Linked DNA regions of Homo sapiens. The protein of the gene in region 2 interacts with the protein of the main gene of each other region in a biochemical or structural test. Each region holds a gene or a part of one and is shown on either strand. Other genes may lie near its edges.

Evidence for each region. Proteins that work in one complex are often made in the same cells at the same time.
Region 1: the proteins of EIF4E (region 2) and OTX2 form a complex in vitro, tested with the Homo sapiens proteins (one study listed by BioGRID).
Region 3: the proteins of EIF4E (region 2) and IPO8 form a complex in vitro, tested with the Homo sapiens proteins (2 studies listed by BioGRID and IntAct, with this or other methods).

Annotation. Positions count from the first base shown.
Region 1 is NC_000014.9:56,807,474-56,815,298, forward strand, and holds the start of OTX2 (homeobox protein OTX2), read right to left. Parts: upstream 3,007-7,825; 5' UTR 2,903-3,006; exon of another isoform or gene 2,750-2,902; 5' UTR 2,686-2,749; intron 1-2,685. UniProt on the Homo sapiens protein: Transcription factor probably involved in the development of the brain and the sense organs. Can bind to the bicoid/BCD target sequence (BTS): 5'-TCTAATCCC-3'.
Region 2 is NC_000004.12:98,898,126-98,905,147, reverse strand, and holds part of EIF4E (eukaryotic translation initiation factor 4E), read left to right. Parts: intron 1-3,165; coding exon 3,166-3,272; intron 3,273-7,022. UniProt on the Homo sapiens protein: Acts in the cytoplasm to initiate and regulate protein synthesis and is required in the nucleus for export of a subset of mRNAs from the nucleus to the cytoplasm which promotes processes such as RNA capping, processing and splicing.
Region 3 is NC_000012.12:30,629,864-30,636,885, reverse strand, and holds part of IPO8 (importin-8), read left to right. Parts: intron 1-2,599; coding exon 2,600-2,803; intron 2,804-4,874; coding exon 4,875-4,991; intron 4,992-5,928; coding exon 5,929-6,026; 3' UTR 6,027-7,022. UniProt on the Homo sapiens protein: Involved in nuclear protein import, either by acting as autonomous nuclear transport receptor or as an adapter-like protein in association with the importin-beta subunit KPNB1.

The sequences.
Region 1 (7,825 bases), on a different chromosome or scaffold from region 2:
AGCTCTCACCCAATTAGAAATGCCTGACACATCATACAATAAAGTAGCACATTCCAACATAAAAAGCCAGTAACACACAGAAAGCACCAGGGCCGAGATCCTTCCAGGGGCTCCTTTGCCCTTACCATTGCAAAATGGCTAAAATTCTCAAAATAGACTATTTTCACTTTTGCTCCTGGATCCACCTTTAAAAGGAAAAGAGGAAAACCAAAACCCAAAACTAAGAGATTCTCTCCACAACCGGCCTAGGTATGCACTCTGCATAGAAGGCATGGGCCCTTCAATCTAACTTTCAAAGCTCTTTTCCTCTCGAAGCAGGGTCCAGAACGGGGAAAAGAAATAACTTTTGAAAAATCCACGCCTCACTATGACTGCTCACGAGGTGGCCTCTGGAGAACTCATACCTAGAAGCTGACCGCGGTCGCGCGGCGAGTTCCGGCAGCCGGTCGGCGACCGCACCTCCGGGCGCGAGTGCCTGGGTCCCGCGTTCCTGCCCGGCAGCCCCGCAGCCCCGCAGCCCCGCAGCCCCGCAGCCCCGCAGGCCTGGCGCCCGAGGTCCCGCTCCACTGCCCGCGCCCCCCGCGCAGCCTTATATCTAACGGTCAATTCGTGCAATCTGTCGCTTCTCCCTCCCCCACGCCTTGTTTTTTTTTTCTTCCAAGAAGCCCATCTACCAGTTGCTGTGTCCTCGCTCAACAATAATTACCTCGTCCGAGAATTAATTATAATAAATGTTTTCTTGATAAACTAACGAGATAATCCGAGGGGCACACGTCCCTTAATTACAGGCCGCCATGCTCCTCTCTGCTTCTCGTCCGGGCTGATTAATTTTCTGCATGATGGAAAGGAAACAAAACTACGCGGACTGGCGACTGGCCTGCGGCTGGGAAGACGACGAAGAGGAGGAAAGAAAGAAAAAGGAGACGTGTGGGCACCGCGGAAAACGGCCGGCGCTGGCCTCTCTCCGGCGAACTCGAGTGAAAGTTTCTGGCCTCGGGGAATCAAATAACTCTGCCACCCGCGAGGGAGGGAGGAAGAAACGTGCCAAAAGGGTTGGCCTTGACTATTAATTATCGTTGGGAGAAAGCCCCGGTGTTAGCGCTGAGGTCTGGGTGTCTACCTTACTCTGGGGGGAGGAGTTCCCTCTCCTACTCCCCTCTGTTGCTAATAACTTTTGGTGCCTGTAAAAAGTCCCGAGCTGAGCAGGAGAAATCCTGACCCCGAAGCTCTAGGATGGAGGGGAGAATTTCTAGGAGCGACTTCCCCGTCCCCTCCCCAAGCAATCCACCACCGCAGGGTCGGCGCCGCTCGGCCTTCGCTCCCCGCGCACCAGTTCTATCTGTGAAGGAAGCAAAAGCCAACTCGGTGGAATCCTGACAGGGGACTTGGGTTTCCAAAAATATGTCCCGAAATCGGGCATCGATTTCAAGAGTCACTTGAACGCAACAACGCGAAGACTTCTTGGGAGTTTGCAGAGCGACCCGTCGCCCGCGCCCGGCGCTGGCAGGGACCTTCGGATGGTTCTTACTGGGCCGATCCATGGCACAGGCTGGGCCTCGGCGAACCCCTCGGCCCCCGCCCGGCCCCGAGCCACGACACCTCATTGTCCTGGAGCCTGGGAAGGGGGTGCGCGAGCGCGCGGGCGAGCCCTGCCTCTCCCCGCCAGAGAACAGCTGAGGGGCCGCGGTCCCAGCGGGAGGATTCCGGTCCCTGGCCCGGCCGCGGCCTTGGGCGGAGCAGGGGCCACTAGCTGCCACTTCTGCCCGCCCCAGGTGCGCGCGGAGGGCTACGTGGGGCGGGCCGCGACCCGGCAAAGTCATGTTGAAAAAACACTCTTCACGTTCGCTCGGCCTGGTGACCAGGGTCGGGGACCACGACAACCGGGGGTTGGGAGGCTGCGTAATTACAACCCAGGGTGGTTTGGATTTTGGGGGGTGGTGGATATTTAAAAACAAAAAGGAGATCTGGAAGCTTTTGGGAGAAACAGACAACCGAGCTGTGCTAGGCTGAGGGAGAGGAGGCCAAAGAGAGCGAGCAGTGAGCGCCGGGGCGGACGAGAAGCCAGCGCTCCCAGCCTCCTCGGTTATCCGCTCCGGTTTCCGCTCACGTTCAACAGGGGCCGACAGGGGCTCGAGCGGCGGCCCCCGGCCCAGGCCGACCCGCAAGCGAACCGAGCTTCCGGCGCGCGGGCCCAAGGAGGCGCCTGGCTTTTTATTATTGTTGTTTCAATCCATCCATCTAGTTACATCTGCATCTTTTTGTCTCGGACTCTAAAAAGGTCCCTGGGATCCATCCAAACGACCCCAACCAAATCTGGGGGCCAAAACGCAAAGATCGCGGGAGAAGCCCAGAACGGCGTTGACATAAAAACAAAACCACAAACAAAACCTTCCAAAACACCCCAGATTACATTCGCAGCGTTTCGACGACGTTTTGCAGAAGCGACGACCCCCAGGAGCACGCTCTCTGCCTCTCTCCCACTACCGCTCTCATCTCTAGATCACATTTTTCTTTTTGCAACGATCGTTATTACACCTCAAAATTTGTAAGAGAAAAAATACATCCGCCTACAGAACTCCACGTTCGCAGAGGGGCATCGGTCGGTCTATTGGAGGTACTGGGGTGATGGCCGACAGACACGGGGACACGTAGATATGGATATAGACAAGACAGACGGACACTTACCTTACAGCCTCATGGGAGGTTAGAAAAAGTCAAATATCCTTTAAATTCCAAATAGCCAGCTATCCTAAAAGAAATCAAGAGTATTGAGTTAGAAACCTTGCAGTCTTCACCCTTCCATGAAAAGTCAAACACAACCAAAAAAAATTTTTTTTAAAGAACGAAAATGAGGAAGGCGGCTAGAGTTCTAAACACGCGTGGGCCCCTCTGCAATACATACAAAGTAGATGTGGCGAGTGAGGGCTGCTCTAGCAATTTTTATTTTTAATCACAGTGGAGGCTGTGTTGGAGCTGAGGCCGGTCCCGCTCTCAGGGAGATTTGCTGAGAAAGCGCCTCTCTGGCAACTTTTTGACGCAAACTCTCCAACCAATGGCAGGGAGAGAATGATTGACACATCTAAGCCAGAGGGAAAATAATAAAAACACACAACAGGGGGAGGAAAACAGGCCGCTGCTGCACGGGGGGACGAGCAGGCAACAAATCCAGGCCTCCGACATTACCAGAATGTTCTTTAAAGACACTGGGCTTTGCTTAAAATATACATTATGGGCCGGAGCATGTGAACTAATTGTATAATTAAAATGATGGACAGGGAGTTCTTCTCTTACCCTCTTTTCCCCTGCTTCCTTTACTCCGAAATTTCCTTTCCTCTCTTTTTTTTTTTTTTTTTTTTGTTGTTGTTGTTTTTAGGGAAGGGAAGAAAGGAAACCCATGCAATGTAAGATGGAAGATAAAAATATTTAAGTAAATGCTGGAGAATGGCGGGTTAGGGAGTGACTGGGTTATCACATTCAACCCCAGCAATAAGTGTGTGGATGACAGGCAGAAAGCAAGTCAGACTGAAACTCAAAAACACCACTATGCCGTCTCAGACAGGGCCAGAGCACGCTGACGGCCAGAAAGGGTAAAGGAGGGAGGCCTGGGAGTGCGATGTGGGCATGTAGGGAAAACAGAGAGAGAAAGATACACAAGTCCAAGAACAAACTATTTTCTAAAACTCAGTGTCTTCTCTATTCCCTACGCCCTTATAAATATCCTTACACATATAAATAAATGATCCCCGAGTGAGAGACCCCGGCTTCTGGTAGGTTCCTGGGGTTTTTTGGAATTGAGAAGCCCACGACAGACTGCAGGGAACACGAACCCCGGAATCTAATCTCAGGGCCCATTTAGGAGAAGTAGCTGGGACCACATCGGGCCTCGAGGATGCGAGTGTGAGGTCGACAAGATATCGTGGAAGAGAGCGAACGAGGGAGGCCCCCGTTGGAAACAGTTTCTGTGTTAGAACAAACGCCACCAAACGACCGACACTGCGAGGCCTGGAGCTACCTGGGCTGGCGCCGCCCGAGCCCCGGGCTGCGAGCCCAGAGGCTGGGAAGTGATGGGACCTGGGGGCCCGAGCCGGAGAGTGCGACCCCCAGCCCAACTTTTTTGCCTGGCATAGAAAGCAGGGACCGGACAGGTTTCAAACGGATCCGAGTCCCTAGAAAAGCAAAAACAGACTGGGCGGAGTGTGGGGTGGGGGGTGGCTAGTGGAACTGGTGAGTGTGTGTGAATAAGCTGGGTGGGGGTGGGAGCAGAAGACAGCTCTTGCTTCACAACACCCAGTGCAGGAAAAGAAAAATAAAATCTCTTCCTAAATACCCCACCCCCCGCCACCCACCCACCACCAACTACCATCACCACCACGGCCAGTGGGCCCAAAGAAACAGCTCGCTGCCTTTAATTTGGGGACCTATGTTAATGAAGTTGGTAATTAATTCGTCGCTTTGTTGTCGGTTCTTATACTGTATGTGTACTCAAATGTGGCCGTCCTTGGGATTTACAGCAATTAACGAATTACGGGAGTGCGCACGAGGCAGCAAGCTCTCGGCAGCCGGGCTCCGGCTCGGGCTCGGCCTGGGGCTGGGGACTCCGCGGCAGCGGCCCCTGTCACAGGTGTCCCTAGAGCTTTGGGCCCTGGCGGCCCCTCGAGCCCCCGAGGGGCCCGGAGCCCGCCCAGCTCCTTCCCGGCCCTCTGCAGCAGCTCCAGTCCGGAGACCCGCTGGCTGTCGCGTTCCCAGGAGTCAAGAGTTTCTAGGGGCCCGGGCGGGGGGGAGGGTGAGTACCGACCTTTTTTCTCACCCCACCCCCACTGTACTGAAACACCTGGCGGCCGCCCCCGAAGCCTTTAATGGGGATGGTGGTGAGGAGGGGGTAACAAATGCCCCGGGCGTTATGACCCTCGTGGCGCTGGCTGTCGGAGGCACTGGTTGGGTGCGCTTGGTCAGAGTCATGATGCTTTCGATGAAGGAAAGGCAAATCCACCTCGATCACCTGAAGCAGAGTCTCCTTCCTACCCCTAGAAAAGACAACGTTTCCCCCAGTTTGATCACAATGATGTTTAAAGCATAAAAGAGCCGAAAAAGAAAAATGGACGTTGTGAATCTGGCAGAGGGGAAGGCCGGAGGAAGGCCTTGGGGACAGTGGGCATGGGGTGGGATGGAGAATGATCAGAACATGCGCTTGTGAGCTAAACCAAGTAAACCATTTTGGACTGGGAGATCCATCTGCCGTAGGGTCCAGTGTCCAGGGTAACCTTTCAAGCCCGATGTAGAGGTTTGCGATGTCCTCCCAGATGGCGGGGGCAGCTGAATCTCCCTAAAAATCCCCCTGTTCTATTCGACAGGGGCAGATTTATGCATGGTGGGGCGTGAGAGGGTTTTGCCCTTCCAGCGGCCGGCAGCAGACAGCTCCCGCTTCTCCTTTGCCCTCTAGTCTAATAACTTCGCAGAAATACAGGGCCAATAAACTACGAGTTGGAAATGGACAGTGTTAAATAAACAAGGGTCTCTTTAAAATTCTCATCCACTTCAGATGTCTAAAGTAAGATTGTGATGATTTTGTCACGGTTTGGTAAATTTACCCCTTTAAGAGGCTTTCATAAATCCCAGAACACACCTTCAGCCAGATTTGAATATAGATTTAGGTTTTAAAACCCAGAAGCTGGAAACACCGCTTTATCAAAGAGAATTTCCCTTTAGCTTAGCAATGTGCTGAAGCTCTTAAAAGATTGGATCTGAGAGAGAGAGACAGAGAGGAGAAAGAGAACTAGAGACAGAGAGAGGCAGACAAGGAAGGGGGGGGGGGGTGAAAGACTTTCTTTTTCTTTCTAGAGGAATTCTGCCCAGACTCTGCAGCAGTTGGTAGCAGGCAAGCTTTCTCCTGGGTGTCGCCTTGAAAAGTTGCAAAATTGCTCTTCACCTGTAAGAACATGCTCTTTATCTTCCAGTCTCTTCTTGTCAATTTGGAAATTGCAGACTGCCCGGCTCAGGTACAGTCCCCACAAACCCTATTCTAGGTCAGGACAAAAGCCACTGGCTTTGGGGGAAGGGGGCTGGGCTCTTTTACTGAAAACCTTAGATGCTTGGTGGGAGAAAAAGACTCTTTGGATGAAAAGTCTAACTCTTGATTTTCAGTAAGTTCTTGAACTTCCAATTTACCTAGTATCTGTTCATTGTATTTCTGTGTTTAACTTTTTTTCTGTGTCCTGTGTCGTTAACATTTTTTTTCTATGAATCTGACTTATGGTAGCATGCTTTGTGTTTTTAAATAATTTTCATTAAAAAGTGGATGGTTTTTAATTGCCACTTGTACAATTATTTTGCTACGCATATGAGATATAAGCATTCAGAAGCTAAATTAAGAAAGCCAATACGAAGGGAATCAAATTATTTGTCAGAGCTTGTGTGCAGTTTCTAGAATATGTCTAATATGCATATTTTGAAATCAAGATTCATGTGTGGCACTAACTAGGCTCAATTTCTCCACCGCACAAGCCAGGCCAGTTTAAAATATTCCAAACTTTCCTCCAAGTTTATTAACTTTGGTGGGGGGAGTGGGGGAGGGGGAGGGGAGAGAAGACATCCCGGGATTCTTCCAGGCTAATTAAAAAAGAAGAACAAAACCCATATTCCGTGAGAACATAGCCTTTTGGGGGAAAGGAGCCAGTTAGACTTCCTTAACACTGAATTCAGAAATATGAACATTAATTTCCAATCTTTTCAGCAATTCACTGGACAGTGAGGGACTACATTTTGCCTTAGAAGCACCATAATACCTAGAAAGAAGTCATTTTTTCATTAGGTTTTTAGATATATCTTTATTATAAACTTTGAGGAGATTAACCTTAATTTTTTTAACAAGGATTTAAGACTGGAAATGCAGACAAAATTTAGGGGAAAAAATAAGGCAACAGATCACTTATAAATTAAGCTTGGGTCTCTCACTCCCTGCATTGCGGTTGCCTCAAAAAAGAGGGTAAGGGAGAAAGAAACAACTTCAAAGATAGGATTGGGCTGTCTCGATAAAAGAGTAGGGAGGCAAACTCCAAATGCGAAAAAGAGGAAAAGAGGACCATGTTGTTCCGGAATGAAACGGATTAAGATTGTGTGACAAGTGCGAGATGTGGTGCTGTGAGACATTTATGAGCGGAGTGTGAGCCGGGAGCTGTGCCTCTGTCCCTGAGAGTGTGGGGACCAAGGGTGTGTGCAGAGCAAGGTTAGGGTGAGGGATAGGAAGGGCATGTGTGGATGTGAGACAGAGAGAAGTGTGAGGCAGAGTGTGTGTGTGTGTGTGTGTGTGTGTGTGTGTTAGAAGGGTGTGGACGGGAATGTGGATGGATTGATGAAGGGTGGTAGCTGTCAGTTTACATAATTTTCATCTCCTGGTCCTGAAGTTTCCTTGAAATCAATTCTACTGCAGGCAGCAGCCTTGAGCTTACAGAGCTGATATAAAACAACCATTACAGTCCAATATCTTGCCTGTTTGCAAACTTCATTTAAAACTGGGGAAAAAAAAGACCCAGGAATGGTTTTGTAAGAAAGGAAAAAAGAAGAAAAGAAAACCACAGTGAAGCTTTAAACTAGTTTGGATAAATCTCTAATCTTTTATTTGTAACCTTTTACAAGCTTTATTTCCCGTATATGAAAAGCTTCTTTTATATGGGCACGACAGACTTTTCCTTTGGATTTTTAATTAGAGTCCATCAATTGTAGCCATATTTAAGAATCAATATAAAGTAATCCTTCGAGATGGGATAAGGTTTTAATCGAAAATCTAATTTCCCACTCTTTGCAGATCATTTTAAGAGGCTGGTTGATA
Region 2 (7,022 bases):
GAGTAGAGAGAGGAATATGGTAGGATTTTGCAGTAGAGTTTTGTTTTTAAACTGAATGTAAACTTAAAACTATTTAGTGTCTATAGGAAGCAATCTTAAAAATAAGGTTAGATACCTTAAAATAGAACTTGTTTCTTGAAATATTTTTTAGTTCCCATATAGATCATACGAAAAGATGACTGTCTATGCCCAATAAAAATTTTTATGGTATTTCACATCATTCGTTTTAAAATCTAGTATGTTTAAAAGTGAAGACTAAAGATTTTAAATTAGTATACTTACTGATTCATACATACACACATATTTAAAAATGTGTAGCTCCTTTTTTAAGTTGTTGGAAAAGTACAAAATCATGTGTCCTTTTTTGTTTTGTTTTGAGACTGAGTTTTGCTCTTGTCGCCCAGGCTGGAGAACAGTGGCACGATCTGTGCTCACTGCAATCTCTGCCTCCTGGGTTCAAGCAATTCTCTTGCCTTAGCCTCCCCAGTAGCTGGGATTACAGGCGCGTGCTACCACGCCCAGCTAATTTTTGCATTTTTAGTAGAGATGGGGTTTCACCATGTCGGCCAGGCTGGTCTTGAACTCCTGAGCTCAGGTGGTGCACTTGCCTTGACCTCCCAAAGTGCTGGGATTACAGGCGTGAGCCACCATGCCCGGCCGATTATGTGTTCTTGATATGAAGACTATAGTAATCAGTTACTTACAGTGGGACTTTTATTTTAATTCAAAATAACACTTTAAAATTCTAGGAACTGAATATGTTTTTCCTGAGTGATAACTTGCTTTTAATTCCTGTATGTCCAAAGACTTGAGAGAGAGAGAGAAAGAGGATTGTTTCTTTTTCTTTCTTCCCCTTTCTTCACTGGGTCTCACTTGCTGAGGCTGTTTTCGAACTCCTGGACTCAAGCAGTCCTCTCGCCTTGGCCTCTCAAAGTGCTGCAATTACAGACATAAGTCCCTGCACCCGTTCTGCTTACGTTTCACAAATACTGGGCAGTTGCAAGTTTTGGCTTAGCTGTTCTTCTCTGTTAGGCCAACCAGAGTTACGCTCTGAAAGTGCCAGTTTAGGAGTTAGCCAAAAACCTGTGAGGGATTTTTACATATATTGAGGAGCCCACTTCTCATCTACAGCAGTTTTTCTCTGGTACCCTGTCCCCCAAAGCCTACCTGCCTGCCAGTCTCTCATTGTTTTCATCGAGACTCCCACTGTCTGCCTGGAAACCCATCATTAATTTTAAGCTAGTGGGATAGGAAATGTCATTCAGTAATTATCTGTTTGAACACTTAAATTTACTGGTAAGTAAATGTTGATAAAAATGTTTGGTTTTAAGGCATTACTTACTGTATGTCAATTTTCAGGCCTTAATCATTCTGTGTAAACATTTAAATTTATTCAGTTAAGTAATCAAGTTAATAAGTTCCTGTTGGGTTAAGTACTGTGATTATTGAGTAAAATCAAGACATGGTCTCCGTTCTGGGTGACTTTATAGGCTAATAGAAATTCTTGTACATGTCATATGTTGATAAGAAAAAACATATCCCTTGGGAGGCCAAGGTGGGAGGATTGCTTGAGCTCAGGAGTTTGAGACCAGCCTGGCCAACATGGTGAGACCTTGTCTCTACTAAAAATAAAAAAGAATTAGCCAGGTATCATGGTGCCTATCTGTAGTCCCAGTTACCGTGGAAGCTGAGGCAAGAAGATTGCTTGAGCCAGGGAGATTGAGGCTGCAGTGAGCTATGAGTGAGACCCCATCTCTAAGAAAAATAAAATACAAAAAAAAAAAAAACCCATATTCTTTCAAATAAATATTTACCACCTTTCTGCTCTGCATTCTTTTAGACAATAAATATTTGACTTACATATCTTGTTATGTTAACATAGATCTCTGTTGTTTGCTGCTTCAGTCTGATATCCAAACACTTGTTGCATTGCCCTTTTTTTGGTATCAGTCTTTGTCCTAGTGCCTTTCTTTGGCTCTCTTCTTTTGTTGACAACAATTTATGATAGTATGAAGAGCTACATGGAAGAATGTGGTGAACACCTATTTTAAATTACTGCCCCCAGACTACTTTTCTTTCTGATATTTTTAGATGACAGTGTTAATTTTGTCTAGCCTAAAAGAAGATTTAAGTTCAAGCCAATGTCCATCTTGTTAGGTTCCATTGAAAATATTAAGTTGCCGAACTTTTAGGTTACGATAGGGTAAACAGTATGCCATGAAGGTAAGACCTGCGCATCATTGGCTTGATCACTTTACAAAGCTTTTTTGTCATCATAATGTTGTTTTGTTTTGTTTTGTTTGTTTTTGAGACAGGGTCTTGCCGTGTTGCCCAGGCTGGTCTCAAACTCCTGGGCTCAAGCAATCCTCCTATTAATCCTCCTATTAATCTCCCGAGTAGCTGGGATTGTAGAGACGCACCACAGTGCCCAGTGATACAGTTGTTATACTCTTGAAACTTTAGTTTCCATCCTGTATCCTTCCTGATACCCCCTTCAGTACCATATGCAGTATCTTAATATGATGGTATGTTAAGAAAGATAGAAGATTTTCCCAACTTTGTTGCATAGTCTGTGACAGTCTTCCTGCTATTTAAAAAAAAAAGTGCAAGTGGAAGGATAACTATAAATACTGTTATATTTTCAAATTTGAGAAACCGTTTGCTCTTTGCTCTTAATGAAGAGATATGAGAATAGAGAATGGTTCTTTAGAGTTTGGTCTGTGGTCTGTTTTATGAAGCAATCTGCTTTAATTCCTTCTTCTTAAAAAATACTACTAGTGCCGGGTGTGGTGGCTCACGCCTGTAATCCCAGCACTTTGGGAGGCCAAGGCAGGTGAATCACAAGGTCAGGAGTTCAAGACCAGCCTGACCAACGGGGTGAAACCCCGTCTCTACTAAAAATACAAAAATTAGCCAGGCATGGTGGCACACATCTGTAATCCCAGCTACTTAGGAGGCTGAGGCAGGAGAACTGCTTGAACCTGGGAGGAGGAGGAGGTTGCAGTGAGCCAAGATCGCACGACTGCACTCCAGCCTGGGCAACAGAGAGAGACTCTGTCTCAAAAAAAAAAAATTATCAGCATATCAGTTCAGGTTTAGTTAGAATATTGCTGTCATAGATGTGTTAAGACATTTAAAATAATGTTTTATATTATTTTCCACTAGGAAACCACCCCTACTCCTAATCCCCCGACTACAGAAGAGGAGAAAACGGAATCTAATCAGGAGGTTGCTAACCCAGAACACTATATTAAACATCCCCTACAGAACAGGTAAGCTTTCTAACACCTAGGTTTTCTGAGTTAGGCCACAAGGTAAATTGTGAATGGGGCAAGTTTGAAGGGAAAGTTAGATTATGAGACTAGTTTTAGATATGCTAAGGTTGAGGGTTCTATTTTCACTTGGATGACCCATGACCAGCAGACAGTTTTATGTGTGAGTCTTGAGTTCAAAAGGAGCTATGTGAGAGATTAGTTTGAAAAGTATTGGTCATAATGGAAGCCACATTAGTAAATAAGTTCCCTTAAGGAGAAGTGAACTTGACTCAGGACAAAGACCGGGGATACTAGCATCATATAGGAGGCTTTTGTTGAAGAAGAATGCCTATGAAGGATGGACATACAAAGACAGTGGTGGTCGCCCAACGCGGTGGCTCACGCCTGTAAACCCAGCACTTCAGGAGGCGGAGGCGGAGGCGGAGGCGGGCGGATCACCTGAGGTCAGGAGTTTGAGACCAACCTGGCCAACATGGTGAAACCCCGTCTCTACTAAAAAATACAAAAATTAGCTGGGTATGGTGGCAGACGCCTGTAATCCCAGCTGCTCGGGAGGCTGAGGTGAGATAATTGCTTGAACCCAGGAGGTGCAGGTTGCAGTGAACTGAGATCGCGCCATTGCCTGCCAGCCTGGGCAACAAGAGCGAAACTCCATCTCAAAAAAAAAAAAAAGAGACAGTGGTGGTCATGGAAACCAAGAAGGTGGTTTATTCTAAGATAGGGTGGTTTACAGCACATGTGCTAAAAAGGTCAAATGAAGCAAGATGTCAAAATATCCATTGGATTGAACACTTTTAAAAAAGTCCGTGCTGACTTGGGAAAAAGTTTTTTAGTAAGGTTCCATAGAGTAGTTCCATAAAACATGGAAAAAGAGATTAGGGCAGTTTGAAGAGTGAATAGGAGATATACAGATGTATAGAGTAAGAACAGGTGACTTGAAGTTGGACTGAGAATGAGAAACGAGAGCCAGGGAATGTGGAGTTTGAAGGTTGGTTGGTTTGTAAGTGAGAGACTAGAAAAGGGGACAGATTAAAATTAGTTAAGTTTTCATAGTTAATAGTGTAACAGGAAATTGAGTATTAGTTCATTATATGGCTTTTCCCAACTCTTCCCACTCCTTTCCAGTAGGTTTGTTTTTATTTATTTTCTGGGGTATATGAGAATTAACTTGAGTTCACTGAATGCTGATGGTGGGAAGAAAATGGCAGTTCAGAAACATTGTAACAATCTAGAGGAAAGTAAATTGGAATTAACTTCTGAGGTTCTTGAAGTATTTCAGTTCATTTCTTGTCTTTTTTTGTTTTTATTTACTTTTTTTAGGGCAGACCATTCACTCTCTACTTAAAAGAGTCCACAAGTCTATTTATAATTGTTTCATTTATTAAAATTTTTTTATGATCTCAATTTTTTTAAATGTTTCCTTTATTCATCATGGAAGACCTACTGAAATAAATAGTTCAAATATGCTGTATGCAGTTTTCTCATAGGAGACCCTTTGGTTCAGTATATCCTCCAGTGAGGAACAAATCAGTTTTTTAGACAATGGAGATTCTCAGCTAGTGGGACATCAGAGGTCAAACAGTCTATAAAGGATAAAATCCTTCCTCAGGGAAGCAATGTACCACATGTATTAGGTTGAACAATTCGTTAGAGGCAGTCTTATATAGTTTAACCTAATAGTAGCACCAAAACCCACATTTTTTTTTCATTTTTTTCAGTGATATGAAACAAACTGTATATCTTCTAGCTGTCTGTGAACCTAGTTCTTGGTGTCACTTTTATTGTGGGGAGAAGTAAACAAGGCATATATCCCTCACAGCTTGAATGGAGTCTAAGAAGGGATTCTTAAGTGTCCTCATCAGTTTAAAAAAAAAAAAAAAGTTTAAATCTTAAAATGAAGTCTCTGGGGACTTCAGTTTCTCTATAAATTCTACTTTTTGTGTAAAATAGCAAGTATCATTTGGAAAAATACTATGTTTTATGGCTCCAATTTTGGCAGTTTTCTCATTATTTACTTCTTGCATTTTACTTTCTTCACTCCCCAGAGTAGTCAATGTTAAATTTGGTTTGTATTCCAGAAGTATTAAATGCACATATGTATACTTTTTAATACATACGTCTATACAGTTGACTTTTCTGTTTGTATGTGCATATTTTACCTCATTGTTTTAAACCACCGTCTTGCATTATATTGATATACCACCATATATTTTATTAGGTTTACATTAATGGCTGTATAGATTTTTCTTTTTACACACAGTGCTGTAATTTACATCCTTACATAATTGTGCACTTGTGTGAATATATAGGGTAAAATTTCAGATCTCCTAGAACAAAGATTACCCTTTAACAACCTTTGCGCAGATACTGCCACATTATTCTGTTTTATTGGCTTAGACTTAACAGTTTGAGAGTTCCTGGTTTCTATATCCTTGCTAACTCATGTGATTAGTCTTTTAAGTTGTTGCCAATCAGATTGGTCCCAGTCTGATTTGGGAAAACAATTTCAGTATTTTCAATTTGCATTTTAAAATTGAAGTTTCAAAATATTTTCATATTGATGATTTGTGGTTTTTATCTGAGGACAGATTATTCAGTTCTTCTATTTTTTTTCTTTTGGATTATCTTTTTTTTCCCCTACTTTCAAGCTAACAAGTTATGGAATATCTTTTCAAGTTTATTTCCAAGCATTTTATATTAGAGTGCTAACTCACCCAAGGCAGGGAAGTTGGAGGAGTATTAAGTCAGAAAGAAACAGGTTATCCATATCATTTGTCTTCTAACATTGTCTGTGGAATTGTATGGTTTTTTTTTTTTTAGAGGTCTTTAATTTTCATGTAGGCAAATACTGCTTTTCCTCAGTGGTTTCTGGGTTTCATATCAATTTTAGGAAAACTTTACCACACAGTTAAGCTTTTTTTTTTAAACTTTTTAATAGTTGCATAGTAGTCACTTGCGTGGATGTATGATATTTTATTTAAATCAGCAGTACTCAAGTATTTGGTCTCACAATTCCTTTACACTCTTAAAAATTATTGGTGACTCTACAGAGCTTTATGTGGATTTTTATCTATTGTTATTTACTATATTTTTACAGTAAATAATGCTAAGATGTTATTTTATTTTTCACATTTAAAAATGTATAATTTCACCTGAAAAACTTGAGAAATGTAAAATTATTCGTTTAGAAAATCTATCACATGTTAACCTAAGTGACATTTTGTAATGAAAATAATTATTTGAAATAAAAAATATATAATGGGAAGAACAGCATTTTTGCCATCTGTTTTTTTTTTTTTCGGAGTCTCGCCCTGTCGCCCAGGCTGGACCTCCACCTCCCGGGTTCAAGCGATTCTTCTGCCTCAGCCTCCCTAGTAGCCGGAACCACAGGTGTGTGCCACCATGCCCGGCTAATTTTTGTAGTTTCTAATAGAGACGGGGTTTCACCATGTTGGCCAGGCTGATCTTGAACTCCTGACCTCATGATCCACCCACCTCGGCCTCGCAAAGTGCTGGGATTACAGGCATGAGCCACCGCACCTGGCCGCATTTTTGCCGTCTTAGAAGTCAACTGGATTTTCATAGCTGTTTCTGCCTTCAGTCTATGGAGTTAAGATGTTTCATTGGAAGTATAAGAAGACAATACAGCCTCACACAGGTATTTGGTTGGAAAAGGGAGAATAGTTTTTAAAAGCCTTTAAAAATAATTGTTGATATGCTCCTTTGATACACTACTAGGTTTCTTTT
Region 3 (7,022 bases), on a different chromosome or scaffold from region 2:
TACATTCTTCGGCCTGCTACACATATAACAAATATTTTGGGCTTGGTTGACTTGCTATTAATTGTATCATGCTATATAAATTTAGATTTATGCACCTTCTGACACCTAATATACTCAGCGGTTTTTTTTATGGAGCCTAATAGATGCTGTTACACATTAGGAAACACATTTATAACAATCAAATGGTCTTGACTGTAAGTTAGCAATCTAGTATCTAACTTTCTTGTTTGTGCTAACAGCCTCATCAAGGCAGTAGCCATGAGTTAAATGAATCATTACATTAAGAGCTGAAGTGTTAGTACCACAGATTAGTAGAGAGTGTCTTTTTTTTCTTTTTCTGGAATGGTTCTTAGGTGACTCATTAGCAAAAATTACATTTGAGAGACGTCCATATTTGTGATTTAAATATAAATTAAGGTAAAGTACATAAATGAAGTGGATATACTTGAGAATCAGAATAAGATTGTTAGAGTTGAATATTAGACCTTTGTTTTGTTTAATGATGAGATTGCGGAGCTACTTGCTAGAGACTAGGAAGTAGCATTCTCCTATTCCAGGTGGATTTTTTCCTCTCCTGGTTAAAAACAGATACTTTGTTAGCTGAGAAAAATCAGAACTCTTCCTGGTAAACATACAGCTCTATTTTTGATGCTAAATTCTGTGATTTTAGCATGGATAGATTTAAAACACTTTTAACTGGCATCATCCCAGTTTGTTCATATACCAGAGATTATAAACTACCCTTTTTCTCCCCTCCACAGCACAAAATACAGCTTCTAATTTGTTTTTCTGAAATCTGTGTAGGTCTTTTGAAGAAATGCTTCTTTATTAGAAGTGTTGCATGTGTGATTTTTGTTTTGTTTTGTTTTGTTTTTAGCTAACTGTGTGTCAACAGTTGTAGAATTCTTTTATTTTTTCCAGTATGTTATGATCTCTAATTTCTTGTTTTGGCAACTCTTTATTGGCTTATACTGTATGGCTTGAGGGAAAATTTTCTGGTAATATCCCACACTTTCTTGTACTTCCTACTAAAGTATGGAATGATTAACTAGTGGAGGTATTTCTCAGTCTTTTTGTATTAATAGTTATAATTTGCCATGCATTTTTTCGTGTATTTGGTCCAAACTCTGGTTAAGTGCCTTATTCCTAAAACTACCTAGTTCAATCTACCTGCTTCAATATGGTGTGTCTAATAGAACTAGTTTTAGGTTAATATTACCTGGTTTGGGTTTACTCCAGGATTTCTCTCTTATCTTGATTTTTGTTCTGCATTTACTGCCTTCCTGTTCCAGTATTTCAGTTACAATCTAACTGCTAGGAACAGATTGACACTGAAAATAGATACAGAATCCATGGTGATACATAATGTAGTTCAAGTTTTTAACTTTTCAAGCGACATGTAGCTATTTTTCTTTACATTTTTGCTATTTCTTTTTATTATAAATTAGCAAATTATATATTTATGGAGTACAAAGTGATGTTATGATTTGTGAATATAATGCGGAATGATTAAATCAAACTAATATATCCATCACCTTAAATACCCTTTTTAATGGTGGGAACATTTGAAATTTACAATCTTGCCAATTTTGAAATGTACATATACTATTAACTGTATTCACCATGCTGTACAATAGATACCAAAACAAAACAAAACAAAACAAAAACCTAATTCTTCCTGAGACTTTGTACCCTTTTACCAACATTCCCATATTCCCACCACCTCTAGCCTCTGGTAACCACCATTCTATTCTCTACTTCTATGAGTTTGATTGTTTTAGATTCTATGTATAAGTGAGAACAGGCAGTATGTGTCTTTCTGTGCCTGGCTTATTTCACTTATCATAATGTCCAAGTTCATCAGTGTTGTTGGAATTGACAGAATTACCTTTTTAAAAGCTGAATAGTGTTTCATTTTAAAGAATCCACATTTTCTTTATTCATCCGTTGTTGATGGACACTTAGGTTGATTCTGTAACTTGGCTATTGTGAATAATGCTGCGATGAACACAGGGCTGCTGACATCTGTTCTACGTATTGATTTAAAATATTTTAGATATATATCCTGAAGTGGGATGGCTGGATCTGTATTTTTACTGTTTCTACTAGCAGAAATGATCTCATTTGGGCATTTCTAAGCACTTTATAATCAACTCAGTTAATTAAGAGGACTGAATTCTCAATAGGAAGTCATTGTTTAAAACACATGCACTGACCGTACAGTCACTTTTTTTTTAAACAAAGGTAATTTTGAAATCTGCAATTGAATAATATTCTTGTATTAATGAACTTGCATAGCCTAACAGTAGTAATGTTCATCTGGATAACAGGTTTAGGGAACTTGTTTTCAGTGAGGAGGATAAGGACATTCTCAACTTAGCAAACTCTACAGTAAAGATAAGGTTTATTTATTTTATTTTTTATTTTTATTTTTTGACTCTCCTCTTTAGACCAGGGATAAGATTTATTTTTATTAAAATTTTGTGGAAGATTTTTTCCTTTCCAGAGTGTAGTTTTATAGTCTTTGGTTTTTGTCGTGAAGTTTTATATTTTGTCCTTATGTGTTTTGATTCCTTTTAAATAATTAATGGGTTCACAGAGGAGATTTCAAGTGATGAAGAGGAGACAAATGTAACTGCTCAAGCAATGCAGTCAAATAATGGAAGAGGTGAAGATGAGGAGGAGGAAGATGATGACTGGGATGAAGAAGTATTGGAAGAAACCGCGCTTGAGGGGTTCAGTACTCCACTTGACCTTGACAATAGTGTGGATGAATATCAGTTTTTTACACAAGCTCTGATAAGTATGTCTTTACTTCCCCACATCTTCTGATATTTTTTTTTCTAAACTCTTTCTTCATTTCTTCCTGTTTTGATATTTGCCCAAGATTGGTCTAGGTTCTTTTAAAAATTTTTTTGTTTATTCCTTATGATAGAAATCCCCAAACATACATACATGAAATGATAGAAATTAAAATAATGAAACACCTATCACCCAATCCTAGCAGCTTTCATCATTGAGAAGTAGCAGGGTGAGCCTGTATGTTATCCTTGCAAAAGTAATATGTGGAGTATCTGTGTATATTGTTCATCCTTTAGGCATAAATGGGCAAGCATTTTTATAGCAAAGAATGAAGTGTTTCAGGCATACATTGCTTAAAAATTGTGGCTAACAACCTACTAGTTATTCACAATCCCTAGAATGAAATTGCTGCCGTAAGAGGGTGACTTTTTACTTTGTAAGTAATTTGCCAATTTTATACAACAAAGAACAGTATAATTACAGTTACAGGACTCATAAATGATTCGGGGGGAGAAAATATTTGCCACATATGCATAATAGGCATAATGTACACAGTGTACAGAGGCCATCCTCAGATACATAAGACCAGTAACCTAGTAGAAAATGGAAATGGAAAATTTACAGAATAAAAACAAGCCAATGAGGATATTTAGAAAATTATTAATCAAATAAATTATTTTAAATCTCATTAATATAGATTATTTGTTTTATGGTTAGATAGTATTTCCATAGTTACATTGTAATTTAGTTCCACTGTGGGACATTTAAGATTGTTTCCAATGTTTTTACCATTATGAGGGTTATTAAAATGAACATCCTTACATGTAAATGTTTTTACTAATAAGGCAATATTAGCTTAATATATTGGCATTTTTTAGTGTTGCTACAAATAACATTAATGAAGAAAAAACTACCTAGATGTTCTTATTGAAATTCAGAGGAATTGGAGGCAGAGAACACAGGAAACTATATTCCAAAGCATGGGAAACGTAACAGCATAAACGTGGAGATGGAAATATGGAGGATGTGGCCTAGTGTAGTTCCAGACATGGGTGTGTCATAATCACCAAGGAGGCTTTTAGGTCTTGAGTAGGATCTCAGGAGATGTATTTTTAAAGATGCTTCTCAAGTGACAAGCAACTTTAAACCAGCATGTAGGGGCCACTGCTTAAAGACTGTGAAGGAACGCAGTTGGGCTGGGCTATAGTGGCCTTGAATTCTGGACTGAGGTGGTCCATCCCATTGCCCATTGGAATAGCGTTGAAAGTTGTGTTCTGAGGCGGTGACCTTTTAGATGTGGTAATTCACTTCAGGGGAGTTACCCGGTGATGGATGATGTGCAGAAAAAACTGGAAAGGACTAGATGTGGGAGCCAAGTGTTAGAGGTTCACTTTATTAATTTAGATGTATAGAGACCTGGAATGGGGAGGGTGACATTTGATGGAAAGCAGCATACAGATGAAAGACATTAAGAAAGAAGCAGAGCTTTGGGTGTGGAGAGGGCATGCTCAGGGATGTTAAGGATGCACAGTAGTGGACTGGGAGACTAATAGAACTGGTGAGATAAATGGAGAGATAGAAGGTTTGGGAGGAAATTGTTAAATTTGGTTTTAGTTGTGTTGAGTTTGAGATGAGCTATTCAAATGGAACAGTCCAGGAGGCTTAGGGGAAGGTTTTTCCTAGAGGTACAGATTTGAATCCTTGGGGTGGTAGCAATACTAAAGCTGCAGGTAGTATGAAAATTCCAGAGGAAAATGGTAACAAGTGAGTACTGGTGTTCTGGATTTTAGAGAACATCCATAGAAGACAGCAAAGGAGACAGAGAACTAGGCAGACTAGAGATTTGCAATGTCCTAACCTTCCTTTGATTTCCCACATAGCTGGGTACTAAGTGGGTACTCAGAAATAATCCTTTGTTGGCGTAAGTTTCATTACCTTGTGTGTGTTGTAGTACTGTACTCTTTGTCTCTTACTGTCTGGGATAATTTCTTTGTAATTTGATCATGTTACTACTTGTTCTGTAAATTAATAGTCGCTGTACCCTCCTGTCTTTTCCTCCCAAAATGCAACAGCTGTGCAGAGTCGAGATGCAGCCTGGTACCAGCTGCTGATGGCACCACTCAGCGAGGATCAGAGGACAGCACTGCAGGAGGTGTACACACTGGCAGAGCACCGACGGACGGTGGCAGGTCAGCCAGAGTAACCTCCAGAGTGGAGTGCATGTGTCAGAGTGCCAACAGACAGCCTTATTTGATGAGCCAGGTGGCACCTAAACACTGTTTTTGAAATTGTTAGAGACTTACCCTTTAAGATAATAAGGAATTGTCATTATTGTATGATTGTTTTAATCACTCATGATGTCTTAGCTTTGCAAAAACCTGCACATTAATATGTATTTCCTAGTGGTGTTCTCATTCACATTCTTATCCTATGTTGGAGGCAAAGGTACAAAGTAAGGGTTGGGATAAGTCTTGCCGAGGGAGACTTAATCAGTTGGATCACTCCCCTAAACATTTCAACCGTGGGCCAAAGGGACTTGACGAATTCTTGCAAGGAGCTTGTATTCCTGGAAATGGAATGCTCTCTATTTCTCATTGTTGGGCTTTATTTGACATTGTTTCTTGTTGTTGATTTTCAGTTTTTAAGCTGGAGGAATTACTCTGTGTTGATTATTGTAGTTACTTGTAGATTGTCATTGGAAAAGATTTTGTAGTTACAAAAAAATTTTAGTAGGAAACATGGCAAACTAGACATCTAGAGTTTAGAATGCTGGCTCTTCTGCATGGACTTAGATTTTCAGTTCTGTGCAGATTCTCAGTCAGCCTTCCTGATATGAGAAGTCTGGGCCCCCTTTCAGCAGTAGAGACAGTGAAGTAGAATCCACCTCTGAGACGTGTTTTCTTTTCACTCGTTTTTTGCAGATTTTCCGATGGTAGTGAACATACCACCTTATTGACATAGGTCTGTTATTCTTAGTTATTCTTTGGCAGGATAACTAATACTACCAGTCACATTCTTTCACAGTTCTAAGCATATAAAGAATCTGGCTCCTTTGAGTCATCTCCAACTTTGTCACCTTAAGCATTCTTTTTTTTTCTTCTCCCCTTTTCTTTTGAAAAATGCTAGAGGCAAAGAAGAAGATTGAACAACAGGGAGGCTTCACCTTTGAAAACAAAGGAGTCCTCTCCGCATTTAATTTTGGGACTGTGCCCAGCAACAACTGAAGGAAAGAACATCAGCTGACCAAATGTCATCGCTGCATTTTATTTCACAAGAGGAGTGTGAGGGTCAAGGGGATGAAATGAGGGGCTGCTTTTAGGGCCCTCCTGCTGTGCCAGTTACCATCTGGCATTAGGCAGCACTTTTATCTACTCTTTCCCCTTTGACCTTTGTCACCCTGAAATATATATTTTAAACAGCTACTGTAAGTATGAAATGAAAGAAAAACAATCATTGGACGGAAAAGGACAACCCATATGTTCCAAAGGCTGAATGCCCAAGGTTGTTTTAGAGGATTGGATAGACTTGCACGTCTCAGGTTTTTGCCATGCAGAATCAATGGATTTATGCGGATAACAGTGCCTTCTGTTGTACATGAATTATCAGAAAAAAATTTTTGGAGTGCATTGCAATTTTTTTTAAAGCATAAAACATATTTCTAGATACAACATAAACCTTGGTTATATGTCAACTATTCTGCATTTTACTCTGTGAATTTATTGTTAGGCAGTTACTGCAAGTCACTCTGGTTTCAAAATCTTCACGGCTCCCTCTGCTCACCCTGCTGCTGGGGGGCTTTTTTCAGGGGTTGTATTATAAAATATGCACTGGCTGTGGTTTTTCATAAGATGTTTTGTGGCTTTTTAAAGAAGTGTCTTACTCCCTCTTCTCTCATTTTTTTCTGCCTTGAAAAGGGGTGGTATTTCTTTTGGGGTCAACAAATACACATATCAGTTTCACTCCTAACCTTGTAAGTTCAGGACTCATTTTCTTGGCAGCAAGTGGCAGGGGCTCTTTAGTCACTGGAGTTAACAGTAAGTCTGAGTATATTCTGAATAATGTAATTATGCAATTAATTGATAATCATACCTAAAGCACATTGAACTTCTAAGAGACAGGTGCTACGTAAGCACACTGTCTTTCTGGATGGGGACTTGTATTTTAAATAACTTATCATTCCAGCTATGTTGGACTAGGGTCCAAAGCATTTTATAATATTT